2 linked regions of the Homo sapiens genome follow. The protein of the gene in region 2 interacts with the protein of the main gene of each other region in a pairwise test. Each region holds a gene or a part of one and is shown on either strand. Other genes may lie near its edges.

Evidence for each region.
Region 1: the proteins of SRL (region 2) and SGTA interact in binary tests that used the Homo sapiens proteins (3 or more experiments, as listed by UniProt).

The regions. Positions count from the first base shown.
Region 1 is NC_000019.10:2,769,731-2,773,537, forward strand, and holds part of SGTA (small glutamine-rich tetratricopeptide repeat-containing protein alpha), read right to left. Parts: intron 1-3,807. UniProt on the Homo sapiens protein: Co-chaperone that binds misfolded and hydrophobic patches-containing client proteins in the cytosol. Mediates their targeting to the endoplasmic reticulum but also regulates their sorting to the proteasome when targeting fails.
Region 2 is NC_000016.10:4,231,994-4,235,800, forward strand, and holds part of SRL (sarcalumenin isoform 1 precursor), read right to left. Parts: intron 1-3,807.

The sequences.
Region 1 (3,807 bases), on a different chromosome or scaffold from region 2:
TCCACCTCAGACCCCCCTCTAGTTCCCCCTCGGACACCCTCCTGTGCCCCCCTCGGACACCCGCCTGGTTCCCCCACCTGACACCCTCCTGGTTCCCCCAGCGGACACCCTCCTGGTTCCCCCAGCGGACACCAGCCTGGTTCCCCCACCGGACACCCTCCTGGTTCCCCCAGCGGACACCAGCCTGGTTCCCCCACCGGACACCCGCCTGGTTCCCCCCTCGGACACCCGCCTAGTTCCCCCCTCGGACACCCGCCTGGTTCCCCCCTCGGACACCCGCCTGTGCCCCCCTCGGACACCCGCCTGTGCCCCCCTCGGACACCCGCCTGGTTCCCCCCCGGATACCCTCCTGGATGCCCCCTCGGACACCCTCCTGGTTCCCTCTCAGAAACCCTCCTGGTTCCCCCTCGGACATCCGCCTGGTCCCCCCTCGGATACCCTGTCTTGTTCCTCATTCCCAGGACTTGACAGCTGCTTCTGCTCATGTCTGTGGTCCCTGCAGTTTCCTGCCAAAGCTCTAAAGGGTGCCAGATGGTGACATCAGGAGAGGCTGTTCTGGAATCTGGAGCTGTAGTCTATGGACAGGTCTTTTTTTAGTACAAGACCTTTCACACAGGTTTCCTGGGTGCCTGGGCCAACTTGGAGGGGCCTCGGCCACAGTGACCTTCACGGCTCTGAGCAGGAAGCCCCGACGTGAGCTTCCCCCGGGGCAGGCTGGCCGGCTGCCTTGAGGCGCCAGCTCAGGAAGGCTTGGCCTCACTGTGCCTCCATTTCCCCCGAAGGCTGGCGATGGTGACTCTAAACATTCAGATGTAACAAGCTGCGTGGAGAAGCAGCCGCCCCCGCCCCCGCCGCTGGAGCAGCCAAGTTCTGGGCTAGTCACGTCCACCTGGGACCTGAGCACGGGACCTTGTCTGTGTCTTTGCAGATGGAAACAAGTGGAGATGAGGTCGCTGTGGTGGCCCTAATGCAGGGATTGAACATGGCCGCACGGAGACGGCCGCGTGAAGACGGAGGCAGAGGCTGAGGCCATGTGGCCACACGAAGAGAGGTGAGGCTCGCTGGCCCCCAGCAGCTGGAAGAGGCAGGACGGAGCCTCCCTTGGGGCCTTCAGAGGGAACGTGGCCCAGCCTGCACCTTCATCTCAGACTTCTGGCCTCCAGAACTGCGAGGGAAATCAATCTTGGTTGTTTTAAGCCAGCCGGGTTGTGAGGGAGAGGCCAGGCGGTTCCCGGATCGTGGCCTGCAAAGCCTGTGAGCTCGGACGGGTTGTTCGGCCTGAGCCTCCGCCTCCATGTCTGTAAAATGGGGAGCTCCATTGTGGCTGCTGTCAGGGGTCGGGGAAAAAATAACCCGGAAGCTGTCAGCCCAGCGCTTGGCGCCCTGCGATATCTGTTGTTAATATCACGATTCTGCCAGGCGTGGTGGCTCACGCCTGTAATCCCAGCACTTTGGGAGGCCGAGGCAGGCAGATCACGAGGTCAGGAGACAGAGACCATCCTGGCCAAACACGGTGAAACCCCATCTCTACTAAAAATACAAAAATTAGCTGGCATGGTGGCACGTGCCTGTAATCCCAGCTACTCGGGAGGCTGAGGCAGGAGAATCACTTGAACCAGGGAGTTGGAGGTTGCAGTGAGCTGAGATCACACCACTGCACTCCAGCCTGGCAACAGAGTGAGACTCCATGTCAAAAAAAAAAAATCATGATTCCTCGTGGTGAGTCTCGTGGCATAGACCTCGGTTGGCTGTTTTTGGCAGTGTGACCTAGGGGAAGCGACTTAACTCTGCTGAGCCTCAGTTTCCTCTTCTGTCCCCCATGGATGGCGACAGCACCTCCCCATCGGGGGGGGGGGGAGGGGTACGAGACCAGGCGTGCACAACGCTGAGTGAACACCCCCACACAGGCAGGTACGTGGACGGGTGCTGGTGCACCCTCCGTGTCCAGATCAACACATGCTGAGGCTATTCCAGAAACGCTGCCCGGCTGTGCAGTTTCACTGGGAGCATTTGGAGAACCTGCTCTGAGGCCAGAAGCAGGCATGGAGAGGGGTTGCTGTGGTGCTGGCGCATGGAGGGGCAGCCCTTGGGGAGGCCCTGGCCGTGGGATGGGACCCCCATCCTCTGTTCTTGCGATGAGGTTCCCTTGGCTGGGCCTCCCTTCTCCACCTGCTCCTTCCGGGCTGGGCTGGGCAGCCGCCTTCCCTGGAATCCACTCCCTGTCCAGGGCCTCTGGTGTCTCTGAGCAGCTGGGTCTTCCCCATCTCTGTCCCTCACTGGCTGACATACAGGGTGGCGGGGCTGTGTGTCACCGGCCTTCCTCCGGGGCCGGGCCCAGCCCGTGCATAGTGGACCTTATTCTTAGTTGCACTCTGTGTGCCAAGACGCATGAGGCAAGGGGCAGGCCTGAGGCCTCAGGAGCTGGGGAACCACCGTGAGGAGAAGCACAGGTTTGAGATCAGACGCTCGGATTCAGGCTGGGTCAGACAGGGCCTGGCCAAGAGGCCGCCAGCCTCGGGATGGACGAGGAAGGGCGAGGCCTGAAGGAATCTTCTACAGTGACAGCTGCCTCTGGATAATTTCTTATTCTTCTCTGCTCTGTGCCCAGATCTGCTCTCCAAGAAGTGACTAAAGCCACAAACACCTACAAGGAAACTCTGACCCAGCACCCAGGAGGCCACGGCTCCTCCTTCTGAGCCAGCACAGTGCAAGGGGTCTCTGCCGCCAGGTCCCACTCCCCAGCTGGGCCCCAGGGACCCTCTGCGCGCAGCCACGCTGACAGGCGGCTCCAGGGGCTGAATACTGTCGTGTGCTGAACTGTGTCCCCCAAATCCATACACTGAAGTCCTAACTGCCAGGACCTTGGAATGCGACCTCACCTGGAAATAAGATCTTGGCGGACAGAATTTGGTAAGATGACATCATACCAGTGTACGGCGGGTCCCTAGAGCAATAACCAATGTCCTTATAAAAAGGGGACATTTGGATGCAGACGCATGCACAGGGAGAACACTGTGTGGATGTGAAGGCAGAAATGGGTGACGCGGCCACACGGCAGGGACACCGAGGGCAGAGATGGGTGACGCGGCCACAGGGCAGGGACACCGAGGGCAGAGGTGGGTGACGCGGCCACAGGGCAGGGACACCGAGGGCAGAAATGGGTGACGCGGCCACAGGGCAGGGACACCGAGGGCAGAGGTGGGTGACGCGGCCACACGGCAGGGACACCGAGGGCAGAGGTGGGTGACGCAGCCACACGGCAGGGACTCCGAGGGCAGAGGTGGGTGACGCGGCCACACGGCAGGGACACCGAGGGCAGAGATGGGTGACGCGGCCACACGGCAGGGACACCGAGGGCAGAGGTGGGTGACGCGGCCACACGGCAGGGACACCGAGGGCAGAGGTGGGTGACGCGGCCACACGGCAGGGACTCCGAGGGCAGAGGTGGGTGACGCGGCCACACGGCAGGGACACCGAGGGCAGAGATGGGTGACGCGGCCACACGGCAGGGACACCGAGGGCAGAGATGGGTGACGCGGCCACAGGGCAGGGACACCGAGGGCAGAGATGGGTGACGCGGCCACACGGCGGGGACACCGAGGGCAGAGGTGGGTGACGCGGCCACACGGCAGGGACACCGAGGGCAGAGGTGGGTGACGCGGCCACACGGCAGGGACTCCGAGGGCAGAGGTGGGTGACGCGGCCACACGGCAGGGACACCGAGGGCAGAGATGGGTGACGCGGCCACACGGCAGGGACACCGAGGGCAGAGGTGGGTGACGCGGCCACAGGGCAGGGACACCGAGG
Region 2 (3,807 bases):
TCAGGGACTTGGCGGCTGATTTGTGACAAAACCAGCATTTGCTCTGCCCCCGGGTTCCGGTGCTCCCGCTGGGCCCCACCCCAGGCCAGCCGCTCTGCCTCTGTGTAGACAGCGCCAAGCAAGGAGGGACTTGGTGGAGTGCTCACCAGCTTAACTACCAATTCGGAAAGGAAACAAAGGCAGGAAAGGAGGTGGGCTGGTGTCTTGGGAGCCCGAGGCCAGGATGGTCTCCCCAGGACAGGGTGAGTACTTGACACTTCTCCAGTTCTTTTCCAGATTCTTCCCAAGTCCTAGAGAGCACTCCCGGTCTCTTGATCTCCTTGGGTAAGTGCAAGAAAAATAAGTAATCATCTACTACTTGACACTAAGTAATCAACAAATTGGCTAGAGGCCTCTCTGGTGGACACAGGGACACAGGTGGTCACATCAGGCCCTAAATGCTGTGTAAGTTGGAGGCCCATCAGTGGCATGGCTTCCAAAGGAATGGCTTGGTCAAGCCTTTACCTATTGCCATCTAGACGAATTTTTTTTTTTTTCAACAGAGTCTTGCTCTGGCACCCAGACTGGAGTGCACTGGCACAATTACAGTTCACCGCAGCCATGACCTCCCGGGCTCAAGAGATCCACCTGCTCCAGCCTCCCAAGCAGCTGGGACCACACGCATAGGCCATTATGCCTGGCTAATTGTTGTATTTTTTTGTAGAGATGGGGTTTCTCCATGTTGCCCAAGGTACTCTTGAACTCCTGCGGTCAAGGGATCTACCCGCTTCAACCTCCCAAAGTGCTGGGATTGCAGGCAAGAGCCACCGTGCCCAGCCTAGGGGAAATTCTATGGGAGAAAACTGAGCTGGCCTAGGTCCTAGCCAAATGACTACCTGAAGGAGGACCGGGGGCTGCAGTTTTGGCAGCAATCCAGTGGTGGGGGGAGGCGGGGGCTCCCAAACCCCGGGACTCTCCCCTGAGCTCCCAGCACAAGCCACTTCCTACAAGCCCAGAACTCCAGGCCAGACTTTGTCTGCACCTGTTTGAGCTCAGAGTACAGTCCCTGCTCTAGAAGCATCCAAAAATATCTGAGAGAGCGGGGAATAGGGAGGGGCTATCTGGAAGAAAACAGGCTAGAGTCTTCAGAGGGCTGAGAGAAAGAGCCACTTGGCTCAGCATTCAAGGTTCTTCCCAACTGGCCCCAACTCATCAGGGTGGCCTAATCTCCCCCGAACACGAGCCCCACACTCTAGCCAGAGCTAGTCTCATCCTGTCCCTGGCAGTGCCGTGCTCTGAGCTTCCTCACCTCCTGGCTTTTGTCACCATCTTCAGGTGTCTCTGCCTGCACAAATCATCTGTCATTCATTAGACCTTGTTGACTGCCTTGAATGAGCCAAGCGTCATGCTACACTGTTCGTGATGAAATACGGGCAAATTAAACAAAGGCACAGCTTCCACCCTCCCCAAGCTGACCGTCCAGCAATTGTCCCCTCCCTGCACGTTGGGCTGAAACCCTGTCCCTCTGCACAGCCAACCTTCCCAACCATCTTCTGAACTTCAACCAGAGTGAGCATAGACTGCTGGTGGGGGGGTGTTAGTTACATTTTTTTTTCAGTGCGTGTCATCTCCCCAAATAGAAGGTCAGCTCCTGAGGGCAGAGACACAACTCATTCCCGCCTGCACAGTGCAGCTGGCCAGGACCTCACAGGGCTGACAAGGGGCTGAGAGATGGGCCTCACAGGGAGGGACCCACAGCTGCCTTACACCTCTCCCTGCTCTCATCAAATGCCCCACTCTCTCTGCTCCCTGCAGTCTCTGAGGCATCTGAGTCTGAGATTGTGCCATACCCTCATGCTTCTATTTGATCCTTTTGTGCCTTCATCCCTAACCCGAGTCCATCCTGCTTTTCCAGCCTAAAGGGGGACTCCCTTTAGGGAGCATCTCTCATTTCTTCAGGATTTGGCACCCAATCTCTCCTCTCCTGCCAGGGCTGGCCATGGCCTGCATTCATTCTGTGTTCTCTCTCTCTTTTTTTTAAATATGGGGTCTCGCTCTGTTGCCCAGGCTAGAGTATAGTGGTACAATCTTGGCTCACTGCAACTTCGACCTCCTAGGCTCAAGCCATCCTTCCACCTCAGCCCCCTGAGTAGCTGAGACCACAGTGTACCCACTACATCCAGCTATTTTTAAAGTTTTTTTGTAGAGACAAGATCTCACTGTGTTGCCCAGGCTGGTCTGGAACTCCTGGGCTCAAGCAATCCTGCCGCCTTAGCCTCCCAAAGTGCCGGGATTACAGGTGTGAGCCACTGTGCCTAGCCTATTAATTAAATTTAATAAATTATTGCTTTAATTCTGATTTAATTTGGTGCTTTCATTCTGATTCTGCCACCTTCCCTGAGATGGGGTGGCTCAGCAATTGCTGCTCTGGGAGTCCCTCTGTGACAGACAATGAGGAAGTCACAGGCAACAGGCATGTCCCCAAGGTAGGGGGGCAGCTGGGACCTTGACTCCGAGTAAAACCACCTTCAGGGCTGCAGAGGGATGAGGGAGGCTGAAAATAGATGGAACAGGACTTCTCTGATATTAGAGAAGGATGACAGCACAGGCTGCCGCCATCGAGGAAATGAATCAGTCTCTAGAAACTCAGTTAAATCCGTCCCATTTGCTAAACTGCACCCACCCCTGTCACGTCCTACTGAGGATACCCAGCTAGGGATGAGCACAGGGGACTGGGACCTCTCGAGCACTGGGCAGATCATGCTTAGCAGCCGTGCTCGCCATGGCTCCAATTCATTCATTCATTATTTCACCCATTCAGGACCCAGAAGAGAAACCCCTGCTATGTAGCTCAGTCCCTCTGCGCTCAGAACCGGTGAACTATTTACCACCTCCGTGTTGAGATTTAGGAACTTTGGGTGAGACCTTGCCTGCCAAATGGGAAATTCCATCTTAGAGATATCTTCCTTGAGCTGAAATCTTCTGAATCCTCTGAAACACAGACAGACTTGAGCAAAGTGCCCATCTGTGCTGCGAGTCACCAGCCTCCACTGCAATGAGCTGCAGCTCCCCCCATGACCAGTGTCTTGGTAGCAGGGACAGGGGTCGGAGCAGGGGCCCAGCCTGAGTAGGGAAGGGAGACCCAAGAGGGAATGAAGGAGCCAAATAGGGCGGAGGCAGACTCTGAAGATCAACTTTTAGCTCTAAGAAGACAGGTGAGGCCAGGGGCGAGGTCCCTGAGAAGACAGGACTCCCAGAGCAAACTCGGGAGAGAACAGAAGCCAGCCCACCACCTTGAGCCAAAGTGAGTCCTCATGCCAAAGTGAGTCCCACCAATGGGACACGAGAGGGCACAGGCCTCACAGCCAGGAACACATCATGAAGGGGACCTGAGGCTGGACTCCCATCCCCAGTCCACAAAGAAGAATGAAAACCAAAGTCAGCTGCGTGCAGTGGCTCACACTTGTAGCCCCATCACTTTGGGAGACCAAGGCAGGAGAATCACTTGAGCCCAGGAGTTTGAGACCAGCCTGAGCAACATAGTGACATAGTGAGACCATGTATCTACAAAAAATAAAATTAGCTGGGTGTGGTGACACATGCCTGTAGTCCCAGCTACTCTGAAGGCTGAAATGGGAAGATCACTTGAACCCAGGAAGTTGAGGCTGCAGTGAGCTATGATTGCACCACTGCACTCCAGTCTGGGAGACTAAGTGAGACCTTATCTCAAAAAAATAAATAAAAATTAAAAAAAGAGAGAGGACTACAGTCATCATCTGAGTAACTCAGGCCACATATCCACCGCGCCAATTTCCACTTAAAAAAGCT